Linked DNA regions of Homo sapiens: all the other regions are linked to region 1. Evidence: fine-mapped expression QTL. A gene starts in region 1. Each other region holds a variant in brackets. All regions are shown on one strand. Distances are between the middles of the regions.

Region 1 (4,120 bases):
TCATGACGTTTGCTTGATAACAAAGACCAGGAAATTCGGTCCCGCGCTGACTTATTCTTGCCACACTACAAGGATTCCCTGTATGTCTGACCAATATGCTCTTCTGACTTTTCCGGGGCACCTGCTGGGCATCATGCCGATTGCCTTCTCATAGTGAAACCCAGCAGGGGTTAGTTGGCCAAAACCACAACTATCCTCTCATGATCAAAAATGAGCAAGAGGATTTAACTGAAATTGATTCGCCGCCTGCATGCAAAAGCTTAAACCAGGTCACTTTCACCCCACTTTTCTTTTCTTCTAACAGAATACGGGCAGAGAGAAGGTTTATGTTTCATCTGATAATCACAGCTATTCCGGATTCAGAAATACAAAACACTTACTTTTAACGTGGGAAGGAGATTTAAAAGAAAAAAAAAAGAGGTAAAGGAAGATGGTGAATAAATACTACAGCCTCTGCAACTAGACACTTCCTAGGGGAGAACAACAAAGAAACCACGAGGTTGGGAAAGGCAGTGCCGCATCCCACCCTTTGGGACTCTGCAGCTCGATTCTCCTGCGGCTCTACAGCAGGTCCCCAAGGCGCTGGCGCTGGGGGGCGGGGGCCGGGGACCGTGAACCCGCCTGGAACGCAGCCGGTGCCACTCCAGGGAACAGGTGAGCGCCAAGCACCAGTGAGAGTACAGCCAACTCCCTCTGCAGCCACTCCTTGCCAGAAACCTCCGTGCCCAGGAGCCCGCGCTAGGGCCAGGCTCTTAAAATCCCGGGGAGGGATGCCGGGTGATGGAGCCGACACGGAGTTATGCAGTCTGGAGAAGCAGGGATGGGTAAACACAGGCTGACAGTGGGAAGGGCCTTGCCTAGCACGACCAGGCTCGTTCCTGGACCTCACCTATGAAAAGGATCTCCTGCTGCTCCCCACTCGCACTCACAAATTACAGGCTCCAGTTCGAGCTGACCCCGGCACTCACGCTGAAGGGACTCTTGGGAAAATAACACCCGATTTTGCCTTTGCAGCCACTGTCTTCCTCCTCCGACCTGCAGTGTCAAACCTGTGCCACTCTCCGCCCCCACACACCTCTCGCAAGGTCTGGCTTCCTGCGAGCCTGGAACACAATAGGTGGTGCGGCCTCTGAGGGCCCGGGCAGCCACCCGCACTTCCCCGCCACGCGGAGAAAGCCGAGCACACAGGCCGCAGGGTGGGGGTCCGCGGGGAGAGGGTGGAAGCAGCGGGTTCTCCGCGCCTGGGGTGGCCGCTGCCCCACCCAGGCCCCCGTCTGCCCTCTACCCTTCCAGACCAATCGCTCCCTGCAGGTGCCAACGCGGTGCCCCGCACCAGGTGGCACGCGGACTTTCCCCAGAGCTCCCCGGCCTAGACGGAGTCAGGCTAAGGCAGAAGCGCGGGCAGCCCCGGCGCTACTTTACAGCGCCCCATCTGCAGCCCTGGGGTCCTCACCCGGCTCCAGGGTGCACAGCAGCCGGGGCGCGGTCCGGGAAATGCAGCTGCGCTTCTTGAGCACATTGCTCAGGATGGTGCCCACGCCGCCGCCCTGCCGCTTCAGGCATCTCCCCCCGCGCCTCAGAGACCCGGTCAGCTTGTCCTGCCGCATCCGAGAGCGCCCCGGGCTCTGGCACGGCTACCGTCCGTCTCGGTCCCCGCTACCCCACTCGCTGAGCGGCTGAGCTCGCGGAGCTGGGTGAGTGTCTGCGGCTGACCGGCCCGTGGGAGCAGGGAGCGCACAGCCGGCTGGTGCTGGAGGGTCACGGGGACTTACGGGGCACCGCGGGAGCCGCCGAGCGCAGGGAAGCCAGCAGGCATCTGCAGTGCGGAGCCTGCAAGGCTGAGGCAGGAGATCGCTCGAGGCGGGGAGGGCGGGAGCGAGCGAGCGAGCGAGCGCGTGGGAGACGGAGGCGGCGTGCCCGCCCCCAATCCCGGCACCGCCGTGCGCAGGCGGGGCCGCCCCAGCTCCCCCGTGCCCAGAAGCGCCAGAGACAGGGAGCCAGTGGGCGCGTAACTGCGTTCGGGGACCAAAAGCAGAAACAGAGATGTCCGTGCTTCTCCCAAGATCTGGGAGGGAACAGAGGGAGCACCAAGGGGCGCCAGTCTCAGGGGCAGAACACCCGTAAGGGCAAGCATCCTCTCCCACTTCCGAGCAGTCTCAGAAGGGGCCATGACCCAACCGCAGGCGGCGAGGCACACGCTTCAGCCCGAATTGCGTTGAATTATTTCCTGGCAGATTAGAGAGGCGCGGAGAAAATGAAGGAAAAAAAAATTATTGTTTCTTTTAGAAAAATGGGCTTCCAGAAAAAAAGTGTTCTCTTTTCAAGCAGTATTAAAAAGTAATGTTCCTCATCTCTCCAGCCAGACTTCAGTAGTTCTGAACTATTGCCCATCATTATGGTTTAAAAAAAAAAAAGTCATTCTCAAACGGCAATATTCACCAATAGACTATTTACCATTAAAATGGATGAAAGAAAGGGTGTGGGGGGGGGATATAAAGATACTTGTGTTTGCTAATATTTATAAAAAGAAACACTAAATGGATAAACCAAAAACAAATTAGAAAACTTGTATAGGAGAAGGAACATCGTGGAGGAGACAAGAATGGAAAACTGAGTCCTCTCTTGATGTGCCTCCTGTAGTTTTGGCTCTGGAATAACACTATATTAATAATATTAACAAATTAAATTTTTAAAAAACCAGGATGATGGAACAGCATGCCTATAGTCCCAGCTACTTGGCAGGCTGAGGTGGGAAAATTGCTTAGCCCCAAGAGTTTGAGGCCAGCTTGGGCAACATAGCGAGACCCCATCTCTTAAAAAGACATAAAAATAAAAATAAAATTTGAAAATACATAAAATAGTCTGGGCACGGTGGCTCACACCTGTATTCCTAGCACTTTGGGAAGTCAAGGCAGGAGGATGTCTTGAAACTAGGAGTTCAAAGCTGCAGTGAGCTATGATTGCACCCCTGCATTCTAGCCTGAGCAACAGACCTAGTCCCTGACTATAAATGAATAAATTATTTTTAAATTGTAAAAGAAAACCCTAACAATTGAAAATTAATGGAAACAAATCAACCTAATGGACTATCCCACTTATAGCATAAGAACACAGAAAAAAATAATTCTCTCTTAAGTTGACATAGAACACAATATTATGACTGTACATCAACAGTTGTACATATTCCCAGAGCAAATAAAACTGCAAAGAAACCTTACATTTCATTCAGTAGTATTATTGTTATTAATAATATTCATATTTCTTAAATTCTTATATCCACTACAGGATAAAGCAAATAAATAAGTATGCTAACATCAAATGGAGCCAAGATGTTTTCAGTGTAATAGAAAATATGTGTATAACCAAAGTAATTAAGTTTTCTTTAAAATATTACAATTATATATTTATATGGGAAACACTAGTATGAACTCATTTTTTTTTCTTTTCAAAAAAATACATACATTCATTGAATAGGTTTAGAAGTAAGGACAACTCAGCAGCAATGAACACCCACAGCACCCAGGTTATGGTCTCTAAAAACCATTCCCCACTCAAAGGAACTAAGGCTCCTTTGAGGAGTGACTGATTCCAGGTTTGGGACAGAAAAAGTACAAGATGACCCTGAAACATTTTGATGAGCTCAAAAAGAAAGGAAATGTTTCACAATTAATGGGGTCAAGTCAAAAAGACACAAGAGTCACATAAATAGGCTCCTTCCTATTGGCCAAAGATGAAACAATTTGAACTTGAAAAACAATGGCTGAGCCTGGACAACATGGCAAACCCCCATCTCTACAAAAAAAAAAAAAAAGCTACAAAAATTAGCTGGGCATGATGGCACACACCTGTAGGCCCAGCTACTCAGGAGGCTGAGGTGGGAGGATCACCTGAGGCCAGGGAGGTCAAGGCTGCAATGAGCCATTATCGCACCACTGTACTCCAGCCTGGGTGATGGTGAGACCCTGCCTCAGAAGTAAAAACAAAAACAAAAAGCAATTAATTGCTGGGTCAGGTGCTGTGGCTCAGGTCTGTAATCCCAGTGCTTTGGGAGGCCAAGGTGGGACAATCACTTGAGGCCAGTAGTTCAAGACTAGTCTGGGCAAAATAGCAAGACCCTGTT
Region 2 (4,120 bases), 52 kb before region 1:
CATACAGTGTCCAATACATAGGGAAGATAGCAAGTCCATACTGGTCTTTGTACATGCTGTGTGGTAGAGGCTACTGCAGGTTTCTTTATTTTCTAAAGTAGGCAAGGCTCATAAATTGACCAATTCACATTGTGATTACTTGGTACAATGCATGCATGTTATTGGTACACAGAGTGCTTTAATAGGAATCTGTTGGATTTTCAAAATTCTGACAAGGCCATTTTTACCTCAGAGGACTATTATCCTTTCACTTATTCATTCATTCAACAGATACGTATCCCAAACTGTGTGTTACCTCATCCATCCCCTTCTCAGGAAGACCAACCCTGGAAATAGGTGAGAGGAGAGTGTTCACAGGGCACAGCATGTGTTGTTGATACTAAGTTTGTGGACAGCAATGGTACAATCCCAAGGACTTGTATAAGTGGCCTCTACCTCATTAACCATTTCCTTGAACCCAGACCATCAGGGAGCTAGTGAGCTGATTCAAGAGAGGAAAGAACAATTCTCCATTCAAGTCAGACATCCCTCAAGGGGAACATGACTATTCTGACTCATTTGAGAAGGGGCAAAGAAAAGGATATGAGGTGGAAACACTATTATCTGTAAAGTTTAGCTGATGGAAGAAAATGGTGTCATTTGCTTAACTTTGGAAAATGCAGTGGGTCTCTGGGCCCTGAGGGTGGTATGCAAAATAAGCCCATCTCTCCACCTACAGCCTTCCCAAAAAACAGGCTGTAGGCGTGGCTGCTTTTTAAGAAGCTGGATGCTAACTTCAGATGGCACAGAATTCAAGACCAAAACTGCAATAACTTATTAGTCATATTTTCCATCTTCAGTTCCTTTGGGGGTAAAAATACCACGAAGAAGATAAAATGGCTTTTCTCACGGTATAGGTCATTGTTGTGTTTTCTGTTCAAAAAAAGCCCACACAACCACATTCTCTATTATAAAAAGTAGTACCTCTCATAGTAAAAGCCTGCTCTACAGTTACAGTTTTCGTTTCAGAATTAACAATCCATTAGCTCAAATTAATATTGGCTGCATCAACAATATTCCTGCAAGTATCGCCAATCGTCTTCCAGAGACAAACATGAAGGCTGAGTCTATTCCTCTAATGATGGCGAGGAGAAGGGGATTGAGGAGTGAGCCTTCTGTTCAGCCAAATAACAGGTGCATGAAGCATTTTTAAAATAAACTCCCTGTTCAGGATAAGGAAGTCAGAGCTGGTTTTGTAAAATGCCATCAAGGGACTCTGTACCATCTGGAGACAGGTCCTTTGAGTCAGGAGGGATTTTAGTGAATGGCTTCCCAGTCTTGGTTTTTACACGCTATGTAGCCAATACATCTGTGTACAAAGAGCATTAAACCCACCTATTGCACTGAAGGAAATGTGGCTAAGTCACTTGGAATACCGAGAGTACTGACCTTGAGTAACTGAAGTGCTACTTCACCTCTGTGTGGCTCAGAGTTCCCATCTGCATAGTGGAGACAAGAGGTGCTATCCCTGACCCGCTGGGTGAGAGAGAGCTAGAAAGGGCAGGAGTGAGAGGGAGCTAGAAAGCACTGGGGCCTTCTCCAGAGAAAGGCAGTGTTCAATTAACAAAGTACTCAACAAAGGACTCCAATCAAAAAGCACAAAATTCAAGTAACAGAGTCACAGGTGCTGTGTTCTGGCTTCTGAGCAGAGGCCTTGTGCGTCTGCAGTCTAGAGCTGGTGGGTGAGTGAGCTGTGTGGTGGGGGATGCAGGCCAGGCTCCGCATGGAGCCCATCAAGTCATCCGTACCACTGAGGATCAAAGCTCTCCTTGAGAGGCGAACACAAACCTCAGGAAAAGCTCAGTGGCGCGAGCAAGCTGTCCGGAGCAACTGCGTAAAGCATATGCCAAGTGTGTCCTGTGCATAAGATCTTCAGCTGGGTTATCGA[T/C]TGAAATTTCAACAGATGAAAGGTTTTCTTCATTTTGCAGGTAGAAATAGACAGTTAAAGAAAGGCTATCTAGATTTTTCTCCTATGATTTAGCATAAGAATAAAAAAAAAATTTGAAACTGGTACTGTGGGAAATCTCACACGACACAATCCCCTCCGTAAAGCATGAAAAGGAAAATCAGGAAGTTTTTTGTAACGAAGAAACTTACTTTCTTTTTACAGTTTCTGTCCTAGCAAGCTGGTATGTGCATGCTTGAGTATTAGTAACACCCAGAGAACTGGAAGGTTTGGGGGTGCTGTCACAGGGACTCTGAAGGCCCCCAGAACAGAAGGATGGACGAGAGTTAACAATCTAGATATAGTCTTTTTTAAACAGCTCACAATGAAAAATTGGGAAAACTTCACACTATAAAACCACAATATTTATTTTGCCACAAGAATCCACTTCGTCAGTTAGCAAGTAGCTGGGAAAACAGCCCTGTTCTAACTCCTATTATAAAACTTCCAGTTCCCATTTTTTATGGGCTGTTGCTCATCCCTGAACCTATTCATTTTCACTGGACAAATAAAACTCTTTTAGAGCCATTCAGCTGCAACCCTTATACTACTGTGAAAAGGTGAGTCCAGATACAAAGTTTCGGGGAGACATCATCGTTTTTTAGTGCCACTGTTTCCACCGCCGGGTTTGCTGAAGCTCCTACTCATTTGAGGAAAGTGCACAGTTGGGGTTCTTTCTGTAGGGCCATATAATCCCAAGTTCCTGGCAGTAGCAGATTTCCGCAGGGGCTTGACGCTGGGAAAAGGGCTAAAGATGGGGGTTTTTGAGTTGCTGCCTTGGGGAGCTTTGCTGGTGGCTTTGTTTTCTTCGGGTGCACTCGGCGGCTCTGGGCAGTGCCGCTGGCAGGGTGGGTGCACCCTGAGCTCAGTTTCAGCTGCAGCATCCCTCTGGTTCAGTTCCAGGGCTCCCAACTTCGCCTGAACTGCAGACACATCCACATCAGCATCTCCGAACACCGGCTCCGGAGACTGCCCCTCGATCGTCCTCCTGGTACTGCCTTCAGGGCTGCTGCCTTCTCTCCCAGCTGTCGCTGTACAACCAGAGGGGAATGCCTCTGCTGCCCCCAGCCCATTGGTCTTGCTGGCCTCGTTCTGCTCATCTATCAGCCCTACGGTGTCCCCACAGCCCGGATGACTCTTGGTCCTTGGCATGTTCTTTTTGTGGACTCGGATGTGAGTTCGCCACGGGGAGTTGAGCTTCGTCTTAAGGTCTTCGTAGGGGACAGGAGATATTTTCCCTCCTGTGTGACCAGGGATGTGGATGACAGCATTCTTGGCAGCTCTGTTAGTCATTTTCATCTTCTTTCCTAAAAGAAGGTGGTTTATAACTGGAGAACTGTTTACCTGAGACGGGAGAATGCTGGTCACTGGCCCTTTGTCTGAAAGAAATGTTGAAAGGTAGTATGAAGTGTACCACAAAGAAACACATCCATCTTGGAACAGAAATCACTTAGAGGTCCTCCCAGCCCCGTCTACCACATCCCTTCCCATGTGTTCCCCAGGGAGGGGCAGAGTCATGTGACTGAAGACAGCAGAAACTGAATTCAACCGAAGAGCCTGGAATACCAATGCGCTCTTCTTTAAAGAGGAAGGGACCACAGGGTGATGATACAAAAAGGAACATCTGACCCCTCATTCCTAATCAGAGCCTGGACTCCCTAATTTTTTTTTTTACAGAGAGCTCTTGGCTCTGAGTAGCAACCTCTGAGTTACTGTACTTAGAAAAATCTTTGCAGATTTAAAAAAAATAATACAACAAACACTATGACCATATGGATTATCATCTGTCAGCCTCTGAGAGGTAGGAAAAGAACACACTGCATATTATGAAGTGAGATCCAGCAGAATGACAGAAGTGATAAAAAGGTAGTGAGAATGCAGTGAAATCACAGCTATCCAGCATCTAGCCCTACAGGTGAAAAACCACTCCTGTGTCCTCAATGGACTTCGAAAGCCAATTGAAAACTGAAAAGCACCAAAAGCTTTGTCCTCAGCTAGGTGCCGTGGTTCATGCCTGTAATTCCAGCATTTTGGGAGGCCAAGGCAGGAGGATCACTTGAGGCCAGGAGTTCGAGACCAGCCTGGCCAACATGGTGAAACCCTGTCTCTACTAAAAATACAAAAATTAGCCAGGTG
Region 3 (4,120 bases), 130 kb after region 1:
AATCAGTCTTATCACCCCCAAACAGTTCTCCATTCAGCCTTTTCTCCCTCGGTACGGCCCCTTGGTGCTAGCTACTATCATCTATTCCTGCATCGCTGGAACAGCTTCCTACCTGGCCTCCTCACTCGGCTCTTATGCTCCCCCATCTGTTCCCCAAACAGAACATCCTTTGTAAAATGCTCATCTGGCCAAGACTCTCCCCTGCTTAGAACCATCCAATGGCTTCCCTTAGTTGCTGATGCTGTCTGAAAGACTCTAAACTCTCCGGCCCCATCTCTCTCTCACCGAGCTTCACTCTCTGCCCAAGTGGCACGCATTCTCCCCTCCTCCACTTTGCCTGGCTATGAACTACTCATCCTCCCCATCTCAGCTTAAATGCCACTTTCTCTAAGCAGCTTTCCACAACTTCCTCTCCTCTCTTCCCACCCAAGGCTAAGTGTATCAAAAGCCTTCACAGAGCCCCTGATCACAACCAAGATTTTTAAATTACAATTATTTGCTTAATATCTATCTCACCTGCACCTTACCTACACCACAGCTGCCGTACTTCTCGCTATTTGGAGTTTATCTCTTGCCTTGAGGCTCTGAGCCTTGTTTCCCTAACAGCTCCTAGTACTTATTTAGCAGGCACAAAATAAGTTTTTAGGCTGGGCATTGTGGCTCATGCCTATAATCCTAGCACTTTGGAATGCTTAGGCAGGAGGATCATTTGAGCCCAGAAGTTCAAGACCAGAAGTTCGAGACCAGCCTGGGCAAAATAGTGACACCAGGTCGCTACAAAAAATTTAAAAATTATCTGGCTGTGGCAGTACATTCCTGTAGTCCCAGTTACTTGGGAGGCTGAGGTAGGAGGATTGCTTGAGCCCGGGAGATTGAGGCTGCAGTGAGCCATGATTGCGCCACTGTACTCCAGCCTGGGTGACAGTGCAAGACCTAGTCTCTTTAAAAAGAAAAAAAAAAAAATTAAAACAGATTTTAAAAAATAGAAGCAGTGAATGTCAAGGAGGGTATCTAGCATCATCTACGAGGTTTTTTCCAAACACATCCTCCTCTCCCAAAGGGGGCCCTGGATCCTGGTGGAGAACTGCTGTCTGATGGTGTAGAGAAAAGATTCAAGATAACCAAATACAAACAAAGAGTGAAAAATAAGTAAATCCACCAAATGGGCTCAGTGGTAGAAGAATTCCTGGAGAACAGTTTAGGCTGGTTATTTAAAAAAAAAAAAAAAAAAAAGAGCAACATGGAGTAGGAGAGCAAAACTTCTACGTTAGAATATTCTGTTAATTTTTAAAATTTTAACAGATTATCTTTCACCTATGTTGAAGTCTCCAAAATAAAGACATCATATAAATATCCCTCCCACCCCCTAACAGCTATGGAAATTTCTTCCTCAGTTCAGTTTTCCTTAAATAACTGAGAAATAAGAACACCATACAGAGGTCCAGTACAGCAGTCTGGAACAATAAAACCCAATGTCAAGTCAATTTCAAAACTAAGTTAAGGCCAGGTGCAGTGGCTCATGCCTGTAATCCCAGCACTTTGGGAGGCTGAGGTGGGAGGATTGCTTGAGCCCAGGAGTTTGAGACCAGCTTGGGCAACGTAGTGAGACCCTATCTCTAATTATAATTAAAATACAATAAAATAACCAAGTTAATAAAATTCTTGCCCAATGTAGTTCTAGTTGCTACTTAAAACACTAAGTACAAGAAAAATAAAACACTGAGTAGACTATGCTAATGTGTCTGGCTTAAGCTGGCAGAGGGAATGGTCACCATCTGCAAAGCCAAGTCAGATTTCTGCACCCTGCCTTCTCCCCAAAATGAGTCTGAATGTCTTGAAAAGCTTCAAAACACCAGAATCAAAAGAAACTTCAAAAACATGTAAAACCACTGTCTTCCTAAAACTCCCTTCACTTACATGTATACATTTCTAATTGTGACTCAAAGCCCACCTTGTAAAGTGTTTAGTCCCACTTAACAGATTTTAAAACTGAGGGC[T/C]AAAAGATTAGAAGACTTATCCAAGGTCATGCTACTAATCTAACAAACAGTAGGAAACAGAGCCGTTTCCTAACTTTTAACCTAGAAACCCTATTCTCAATTGCACCATGTAGGACATTTCACACCATTTCCTGTTCCAGACAGAAGACTGGGACAGGAGCTTGGGATTTGCTCAAGTGTCATTTAAAGCTGACACTTGATCTAGAGGGCAGGCTCAAGTGCTTTTTTTCTTCTACTGAACTGGCTAAATACAATCCTCCCTGGAGACAACATGGCAAATGATGCACATGGAAACATAATTTCTTAATCAGTTGACTGGGCAAGGGGGAAAAAAAAGATGCTAGAAAGCTAAATGCCTTCCATGGTAAAGAGATCGAATTTCCTTTTATATCCCTTTAGAAGGGAATTAGCCTGGAGACTTTTGTTAGTAGCAAACACATGGTGAGTGTCAACTTTCAAAGTTCAGCTGGACTGGAGTATTTTGGAGGTGGGAAGGGGTGAAAATGACTCTCTGGATGGAGATCAAGTAAAAAAACTTTATTTTCTCCCACCTCTGAAAATGACAGACTAATAATATAAGGTTGTGAGAGAATGACATCATAGGCTAACTTTGGGTTCATTTCTGACAATTCAAAATCCCTCTCCCTCTCCCTGCCCTCCAACTCTCTTCTCTTCCCATCCCCCTGCCCTCCAACTCTCTTCTCTTCCCATCCCCCATCAATAGCCAAGTCACTAGGCTACTGCAATAAAATAGGGCCAGCTGTTCTGTATAGTTTAAAGCAATAGTGAACAATAACTTACCTCTCCAATTTCATGTTCACGAAGAACAAAACTAAGTGTGTCTGTTCTGGGCCCTGCTACCAAACGCAGGTAGAGTGGATGTTCCCGGTCTGAGAGCTTGCAGGCGTAGACTGGGTAAAGAAACAAGCAGCATGTTACAGAGTATTCAGCCATTCCTGAGACCACTTCCCCATTGTGATCCCCTCCTCCAGATCAAGGTAACCATCCAAGTTACCCCAGCCTCTAAGTCGCCAGTCGGCTCATCTTATTATTTAATACCAGTAGCCCACAGTGGAATAAAATCTATTCTGTTTCTGTTCAAATATAAACTGTGCCTTGATTAAGAAGGAAATTATTTTCAAGAATAAATTTTAATAGATATTAGTCCCAAAATATGCTTATAGTTAGCTCTGCTCTTCCTTTTAGAAAACAAGGTAAGAGCCAGGCATGGTGGCTCATGCCTGTAATCCCAATACTTTGGGAGGCCGAGGTGGGCGGGTCACCTGAGGCCAGCAGTTTGAGACCAGCCTGGCCAACATGGCAAAACCCTGTCTCTACTAAAAATACAAAAAATCAGCCGGGCGTGGTGGCGGGCACCTGTAATCCCAGCTACTTGGGAGGCCGAGGCAGGAGAATCACTCAAACCTGGGAGGTGGAGGTTGGAGTGAGCCGAGATCGTGCCATTGCGCTCCTGCCTGGGCAACAAGAGTGAAACTCTGTCTCAAAAAATAAATAAAATTTTTTTTAAATGAAAAAAAAAAGGCAAGATAAGAAACCTAAAAAAGGGTCCACTACTCCTTTAAAAACAATAAAAATAGGCCAGGCATAGTGGCTCGCACCTGTAATCCCAACACTTAAAGGCTGAGGCAGGAGGATCACTTGAGGCCTGGAGTTCGAGACCAGCCAGGGCAACATAGCAGGACCCTGGTCTCCAAAAAAAAAAAATTTTTTTTTCTAACTAGCCAGGCATAATGGGGCCCGCCTATAGTCCTAGCTACTTAGGAGGCTGAGGCAAGAGCATCACTTGAGCCCAGGAGTTCAAGGTTACAATGAGCTATGATCATGCCATGGTACTCCAGCCTAGGTGACAGAGTAAGACGCTGTCTCAAAAACCAAGGCCAGGCGTGGTGGCTCATACCTGTAATCCCAGCACTTTGGGAGGCCGAGACAGGCAGATTGCCTGGGGTCAGGAGTTTGAGACCAGCCTGGCCACCAACATGGTGAAACTCTGTCTCTACTAAAAATACAAAAGTTAGCTGGGCATGGTGGTGGGCACTTGTAATTGTAGCTACTTGGGAGGCTGAGGCAGGAGAATCACTGGAACCCAGGAGGCGGAGGTTGCA
Region 4 (4,120 bases), 39 kb after region 1:
TGGGGTTTCACCGTGTTGGCGAGGCTGATCTCGAACTCCTAACCTCAGGTGATCTGCCCACCTTGGCCTCCCAAAGTGCTGGGATTATAGGCGTGAGCCGCCATGCCCGGCCTGCAGCAATCTGTTAATATCTATTAGGTAAAACCTTCTTTAATAAACAGCATAAATAATACTTTAGGGATAACAAACAGCAATATAATAGAAGAGAAGCAAGAAAATACAGGATTTTCTTTTAATAATAAACATAAGAATGAAATTTAAGCGATTAATTTCATTACCAGAAACTAATCAAACCCCAAAAATTGTTTCATGAAAGCAAACACATCTTAATTTGCAATTTTGAAAAAAAAGCACTCTAGGAGGTGTCAATTTACGTACAAAATGTGACAGAGTGAAAGAGCAACAAAAGGCAACTTCCACAATCGCCTGAAAAGCTGTCACAGGCATTTTATCAAAAACATCATTGTACCTATATTTACCATACCTGAGCATACTGTTCTGCCATGCTGCATGTTAATAAAGAATGCAAAACAAAAATAGTTAAATGTTAGCAGAATAAAACATAAGGCTATTGCATGGAGAATTTTAAAATTAATTCACAAGGTTTTATACCTAGTATTTAATGTGTATCAGCAATTTAACAATTTATTTTTAATTGATTAACAAACCACACAGCTCCCACACAGCTCTTAGTTATGATTATGCAAGAGATAGGTTACATTTGCTAAACTATGTTGCCATCTTCAGATTTCAGAGCAAGTTGTTAAGGTCCTGTTACAAGAATCGATTTCTTTAAATCAATTATTTAATTCACTTACTGTAGCAACACAGAATAAGAGAAAAAGGACATGCCTTTTAGGTTATGTCTGTGTGATGCTGTTTTATTTATTTATTTTTATTTTTATTTATTTATTTTTTTTTTGAGATGGAGTTTCGCTCTTGTCGCCCAGGCTGGAGTGCAATGGTGCGATCTCGGTTCACTGCAACCTCTGCCTCCCAGGTTCAAGTGATTCTCCTGCCTCAACCTCCTGAGTAGCTGGGACTACAGGTGCCAGCCACCACGACCAGCTAATTTTTAGTAGAGATGGGGTTTCACCATGTTGGCCAGGCTGGTCTCAAACACCTGACCTCAGGTGATCCACCAGCCTCGGCCTCCAAAAGTGCTGGGATTATAGGTGTGAGCCACCACACCCAGCCAGTGATGCTGTTTTAAAAATAAAAATTTGTCCAGGCGCAGGGGCTCACGCCTGTAATCCCAGCACTTTGGGAGGCCAAGAAGGGTGAATCACCTGAGATCAGGAGTTTGAGATCAGCCTGACCAGCCTGACCAGCAAGGTGAAACCTCGTCTCTACTAAAAATACAAAAATTAGCCAGGCCTGGTGGCGGGCGCCTGTAGTTCCAGCTACTCAGGAGGCTTAGACAGGAGAATTGCCTGAACCTGGGAGGCGGAGGTTGTATTCAGCCAAGATTACGCCACTGCACTCCAGCCTGGGTGACGGAGTGAGACTCTGTTTCAAATAAATAAATAAATAAATAAAATAAAATTGTAATCATCATTCAGCATTAGGTAAAATTATTGTCAAAGTAAAGTACTACTTCAAATCTAGAATAATAAATCTAAGGTTGTAACATTAGACATGAAGTATACATTTTAACTGAAAAATAGGAAACTGTCTGAGTTGTTCCTTGTTCTTAGTTCTGAGGGTATAAGCTTGCATTTAAAACTTCTCAATATATTCACAAACACAGACTGTTGGCTCAGCTTTCCTAACATTCTAGTTGCATGTGGCAAAAGAAGTAACCCAATTCCAGTACTTACTTCTCTTCTGTGACACAGCCTGCAAGCAGGCAGTCACAATATCACAGTTCCTCTGCACTTTATGCAGAAGCCTATCTTTCTGCTTCAGATGCCGAAGTAACTTGGCCGACTGGATGCCAATTCTGTACTTTAGCTCTCGAAGGATCGTCTTCAGTTCATTAGCGTCTATCAGTAAAGAAAAATAAGAATAACGATTAATACCTTGAGAGGAATACAAATTCCAGTGTGATATTAGTCCAAAGATAAATAGAACATCCATTTAAACCAACTAATTCTAGGTTTTCACTCAAGATTACATGTATGCATTCAGCTCGGACATTCCGATCAAATAAGTCACTCATTTATCTGCCCTGTCCATGAGACAGATACTGTAAGGTAAATTTATCCTTAAGCCTATCTGTAACATGGAGCAAAAACTCCTACTTTTACCATATCTAGCTCTGGCTGCAAATTTACTTTTCATTGCCTGAAAACTGGCATGTATATTTTGTACCACTGAAGTGTTCAGATGGTAAGCTTGCTAGAAAAGAATCTTTTTTAGTCTGTTACATTAATAATAAACCTAACAGCTAATTAAAAAAAAAAAAAAGTCTTTAAAGGCCAGGCGTGGTGGCTCACACCTGTAATCCCAGCACTTTGGGAGGCCAAGGAGGGCAGATTACCTGAGGTCAGGAGTTGGAGACCAGCCTGACCAACATGGAGAAACCCCATCTCTACTAAAAATACAAAATTAACTGGGAGTGGTGGCACATGCCTG[T/C]AATCCCAGCTACTCCAGAAGCTGAGGCAGAATTGCTTGAACCCGAGAGGAGGAGGCTGCAGTGAGCCAAGATCGCGCCATTGCACTCCAGCCTGGGCAACAAGAGCGAAACTCCGTCTCAAAGAAAAAAAAAAAAAAAAAGTCTTTAAAGTACTCATCTATGTTTACAAATGATGAGCTAAAAGTAAATAATTTTACCACATTTTGTAATGTAGATGAATGTGGCAATACTGATTTTGTTTTGAATATCCAGTCTTCCAATAGCCTAAAAACATTTTGTCTTAGAGGTACAATATTTCATCTTAGAGCCTCAGCAATTTTTCAAATATGGTAGAAAATAAATTTCCTTTACACAGATAAATTACAATAATTCTACATTCATAAAACTAATATTCACAACAGCAGTTTTTTTTTTTTTACTTTATTTTACTTTAAGTTCCAGGATACATGTGCAGAGTATGCAGGTTTGTTACAGGTATACATGTGCCATGGTGGTTTGCTGCACCCATCAACCCATCACCTAGGTTTTAAGCCCCACATGCATTAGGTATTTGTTCTAATGCTCTCCCTCCCCTTAACAGCAGTTTTTCTATAGGTCAAAACAAATTTGGGAACCAGAATTGTCTACTGTCTTTATATAAATGATCATTACGATTTGGGAGGAGGTTTTTTTTGGTCACATTTGATATGATTAGTCACTAGAGCATGATCTAGTAGGCAGGCAAAGCCTTCCACTCAACTTAACCTTAGCTAGCCCCCCATTAGAGGTTCTCTGTGGGGTTTGGATCTACTCATTTTTAAAGGGATATGGAGAAACTAAAGAGAATCAGAAGAGAAGAAAATAAATGCTCAAAAGTAGAAATGCACTCTAGAGATCAAAGTCAACTTTTGGGGTCTGTAACAAACAAATGCAGGGTTCTCAAACCTGACCTCACCATGGAAAATGCATTTGGCCCTGAGTTAAAAAGGACTGCTTTTGGATCAGCCAACTCTCTGAGTGATTTTTAGGCAAGGAAGTGTGCTCCAAGTCTCAAATTATGCCTAGCATACAGGATTATGCTGAGAAACAAATGGGTATGGTCTTTATAAACACTAACATAAATAACGCTTTAAGTAAAAATAAGGAATTACCATGAAGAAGAGGGCAAAGGCTAGTTCTTCCTGTCCCCCTAATTTTAAACATAGTAGGATATAATGAAAAGAGAACATTTAAGTTAAATGAAAATATGATTAAATATGAGAAAAAGCCTACAAGAGGCAACCAGAGGCTCTTCATTCCTAGATGCCTTCAGATAGAACAAACATCTTTCTCTGAATATTTCAATATTTTGGGCTGGGCACGGTGGCTCACACCTGTAATCCCAGCACTTCAGGGGGCCGAGGCAGGCAGATCACCTGAGGTCAGGAGTTTGAGACCAGCCTGACCAACATGGTGAAACCAAAGAACCAAATCAACATTTTCCTTCTAGAAATAAAAGGGGTAGGAATATAATCACAAAACATTTAAATTATACTTTTCCTCCACAAAAGGGTTCTTACATTA
Region 5 (4,120 bases), 59 kb after region 1:
CATCCTGCCTGATCAGCATGATGTCATCAATGTATTGGATGGGTAAGATGTTCTGCAGGATACCTGGGCAGTCTGGATTTGTCAGGGCTGTATTATAACACATAGTCACATAGTTACATATTGTGACACAGAGATGAGTTAACATAACCTTGGGGCAAAACTGTAGATGTCTTTTGTTGTTCATTCTGTATGAATGTGAAGTGTTTCTGAGCCTCTTTTCTGATAGGGACAGAAGAGAATGCATTCACCAAATCGGTGGCTGCTTAAAATTTACCTGTAGTCATATTGATTTTGTCTAGCAAAGGTATCAAATCCAGCATGGCCACAGCGTCAGGACTAATACTTGGTTGAGCTTGTGGTAGGCTATGATCATTTCCCATGATCCTTTCTGCAGGGGCCAGACTGGCTACTTAAATGGAGATATGGGATATCTCTGATAGGGACCACCAAGATTTGACAATTTTGTTAATCTTTCCAAAGAATCAGCTTTTGCTTTCATTGATTTTTCTCTATTTTTTTCTATCCTCGTTTCATTAATTTCTGCTCTAATTTTTATTATTTCCTTCCTTCTGCTTGCTTTAGGTTTATTTTGCTTTCTTTGGTGTCTTAAGGTAGAAGGTTAAATTAATGATATGAGATCATTCTTTTTTTAAATATAGGCATTTACAGCCACAAATTACTCTTCAAGCTCTATGTTAGTTGTATCCCAAGTTTTAGTATGCTGTGTATTCATATTCATTCATCTCAAAGTATTTTCTAATTTCCCTTTTGATTTCTGTTTTAATCCACTGATTATTTAGGAGTATGTTGTTTCATTTCCAAATATTTGTGAGCTACCCAAATTTCTCTGGGAATCTTATGTTCTAATTTTATTTCACTGTGGTGAGAGAACATACTTGTATTATTTCTACCCTTTTAGATTTATCGAGGTTTGTTTTATGGCCTAGTACATGGTCTATCCTGGAGAATATTCCACAGGCACTTGAGAAGAGTATAGATTCTGCTCTTGTTGGGTGGAGAGTTCTGTAGATCTCTGTTAGGTCTACCTATTTTATAATGTTATTCAAGTCTTCTATGTCCTTGTTCATCTTCTGCCTAGCTACTCTATCCATTATTGAAAGTGGAGTATTGAAGTTTCCAACTATTATCGAGTTGTCCATTTTTTCCTTTATTTCTATCAGTTTTTACTTCAAGAATTTTGGTACTTTGTTAGGTCCATATATATTTATAATTGTTATATCTTCCTGATGGATTGAACCTTTTATCATTATAAAATGCCCTGTTTTTATCTCTAATAATATTTTTGTCATAAAGTCTACTTTTCTTTATTACTAGTTTCCAGAATTTTGATTGTGATGTTTCTCAGTATGATTTTCTTTATGTTTTTTCTGCATGGGGTTCACTGAATTTCTTGAATCTGAGATCAGAGTTTTCTCTATATGCAGACAGCAACTATTATTTCTTCGAAAAATTATTTCTTCCTTCTGGAATTCCAGTTATGTAAATAGTAGACCCCATGATTTTGTTTCACAGGTCACAAGGGCCCTGCTCATTTTTATTTTCGTTTTTTTCTCTCTTTGCTTTATTTTGGGTATTTTTCTCTTGCTATACCTTCAAGTTGACTTATCTCCCCCCCATATTGTTTAATCATCTCTTAATCCATGTAGTGAATTTTCAGATATAGTGCTATTCAGTTATAGATTCTATTTGTATTTATTT[ATTTT/T]TGAGACAGGGTATCCCTCTGTCACCCAGGCTGGAATGCAGTGGCACAATCATGGCTCACTGCAGCCTGGACCTCCCCGGCTCAAGTGATCCTCCCATCTCAGCCTCCTGAGTAGCTGGGACTACAGGAGCATACCACCAAGCCCAGCTAATTTTGTGTATTGTATTTTTTTTTTTTTTTTGTAGAGGTGGGGTTTTGTCAAGTCGCCCAGGCTGGTCTCAAACTCCTGGGCTCAAGCCATCTGCCCACCTAGGCCTCCCAAAGTGCTGGGATTACAAGTGTGTGCCACTGTGCCTGGCCCAGTTATATATCTTCCACCTCTCTTCTCAGTTGGCTCATGTTTTCCTTTAAATACTTGAACAAGTTATAATAGGAGTTTTAACACATTAATCTATTAACTTCTTCATCCCTGTCATTTATTATCTGTTTCTATTGACAATTTTTTCTTCTGGTCATGGGGTCACATTTTCCTGTTTGGGAGCCTATATAGTAATTTTTTTTTTTTTTTTTTTTTTTTTTTTTTGGAGACAGTCTTGCTCTGTCGCCCAGGCTACTGGAGTGTAGTGGCGCAATCTCGGCTCACTTCAACCTCCACCTCCCGGGTTCACGCCATTCTCCTGCCTAATCCTCCTGAGTAGCTGGGACTACAGGCACCCGCCACCATGCCCAGCTAATTTTTTGTATTTTTTAGTAGAGATGGGGTTTCACTGTGTTAGCCAGGATGGTCTTGATCTCCTGACCTCATGATCCGCCTCGGCCTCCCAAAGTGCTGGGATTACAGGCGTGAGCCACGATGCCCGGCCCTGTGTAGTAATTTTCTTATTCAACGCAGGACATTGTGAATTTCATATTGTTGAATATCTAGGTTTCGTAGTCTTCCCTGAAAGAGTGTTGAGCCTTATTCTGGAAAGCAAGTTACTTTCCTTGCAGATTAGTTTGATCTTTTGAGGGCTGTACCCAAGCTTTGTTTCTGTGGGTGCACAGTACTTTTTACTCATGATAGTTTAGCTCCACTATTAGGGCACGACCTTTCCAGGTTCCTAAGGAGTGCTCCTGATGATCAAGGAGGACTTTCCCCTATGGCTGGCTGGATCTCAAACATCCCAACCCCTCTGAGAATTATTTGTTTTACATTACCTTGGTCATTCTTTGCCTTGCCTTCTGGTGGTGTTTCACCCTGTGAATGCACATCTCAGTGTTCAGCAAAGTTTCAGAAAGACATCTGTACAAACTTATGGAGCTTTTAAATCTATACAGCACCCTTCTCTTTGGAATTCTTCCCTGCAAACTTCCAGCTGCCTCAATCTCCCTCAACTTTGATCTCTGTCCACCCAAAGTTAGCAAGTCAACTTTGTCAAGCATGAGATCCTATTTCCTGCTCTCTGGTTCAGAATGTCCCTCCACCAGGCAAAAAGTTGGAGCAATTGTTTGTTTCTCTTTACATGTGGATCACAGTCCTTCACTATTGTCACTTGTATAAAGGCATCTATATTGCCCTGTTTTCTAGTTGTTTTTAGCAAGAGAATTAGTCTGGCACTGTTACTCCATCGTGGCCAGAGATGGAAGTTTTGAGGTTATTAAACGTTAAGTGAAAGTTACACTTCAGAGGTCATGATGAAAAGTACTATTGTTCCTATAATGAAAATTCCACAGGAATTTTTCAACTAATAGCTGAATTGGATGCATTTTTGCTTAAGCTCTTGGAAAAACATGTCAAAATGAAAACACAACTTATTTTACTAAAACAATTTATGGAAAAAATTGAAATAATGAAAAAAATGTTTAAAAAGTGGTAAGTCAAACACATAACCAAACACCAAATACTATTATGTATTCTATTCTGGATATGACAACCACTGATGAGTTGGCAATTATTGGGCACTACTTTCTAACAGGAAAACCTATGAGCAATTTTTAAATATTTTTAGCCAACTGAAAACATCTGAGACATTATTCAACAAAGTAAAACAAGATTGTTATTTTAACCTGTGGTTAAACAGCATTTATAATCAGTCATCTGTTAACACAGCTATTATAATGATTAGGAAAAAGGGCTGCATGCTCTTTAAAAAACAGCTTGGCTAGGCTGGGCATGGTGGCTCACGCCTGTAATCCCAGCACCTTGGGAGGCCAAGGTGGGTGGATCACCTGAGGTCAGGAGTTCAAGACCAGCCTGAGGTCAGGAGTTCGAGACCAGACCAATATGGTGAAACACTGTCTCTACTAAAAATACAAAAATTAGCTGGATGTGGTGGTGTACACCTGTAATCCCAGCTACTTGGGAGGCTGAGGCAGGAGAATCGCTTGAACCTGAGAGGTGGAGGTTGTAGTGAGCCGAGATCATGCCACTGCACTCTAGCCTGGTGACAGAGCAAGACTCTGTCTCAAAAAAAAAAA

What was found. PIP is the estimated chance that this variant, and not a neighbour inherited with it, causes the effect. A credible set is the group of variants that fine-mapping cannot tell apart.
Region 2: its variant is the best candidate, but not a certain one, in a credible set for the expression of TBC1D30 in spleen (GTEx, PIP 0.56).
Region 3: its variant is the best candidate, but not a certain one, in a credible set for the expression of TBC1D30 in whole blood (TOPMed, PIP 0.85).
Region 4: its variant is the best candidate, but not a certain one, in a credible set for the expression of TBC1D30 in lung (TOPMed, PIP 0.62).
Region 5: its variant is the best candidate, but not a certain one, in a credible set for the expression of TBC1D30 in whole blood (TOPMed, PIP 0.59).

The regions. Positions count from the first base shown.
Region 1 is chr12:64,822,367-64,826,486 of GRCh38, reverse strand. It overlaps TBC1D30 (TBC1 domain family member 30), which reads right to left and starts at 1,840. Exons shown (of 12, transcript NM_015279.2): 1 at 1,454-1,840. The coding sequence starts at 1,607. RefSeq lists an enhancer at 635-1,142 and a silencer at 1,781-2,020.
Region 2 is chr12:64,874,244-64,878,363 of GRCh38, reverse strand. It overlaps TBC1D30 (TBC1 domain family member 30), which reads right to left. Exons shown (of 12, transcript NM_015279.2): 12 at 1-3,363. The coding sequence ends at 2,576. Among named protein-coding and RNA genes, the nearest start is that of LINC02389, 7.5 kb to the left of the region's middle. The variant T/C (reference allele first, on the strand shown) is at 1,928.
Region 3 is chr12:64,690,258-64,694,377 of GRCh38, reverse strand. It overlaps RASSF3 (Ras association domain family member 3), which reads right to left. Exons shown (of 5, transcript NM_178169.4): 4 at 2,799-2,908. Among named protein-coding and RNA genes, the nearest start is that of GNS, 67 kb to the left of the region's middle. RefSeq lists a silencer at 1-189. The variant T/C (reference allele first, on the strand shown) is at 1,998.
Region 4 is chr12:64,783,746-64,787,865 of GRCh38, reverse strand. It overlaps a transcript of TBC1D30 not described here. Among named protein-coding and RNA genes, the nearest start is that of GNS, 26 kb to the right of the region's middle. The variant T/C (reference allele first, on the strand shown) is at 2,578.
Region 5 is chr12:64,763,617-64,767,736 of GRCh38, reverse strand. It overlaps a transcript of TBC1D30 not described here. Among named protein-coding and RNA genes, the nearest start is that of GNS, 6.3 kb to the right of the region's middle. The variant ATTTT/T (reference allele first, on the strand shown) is at 1,720.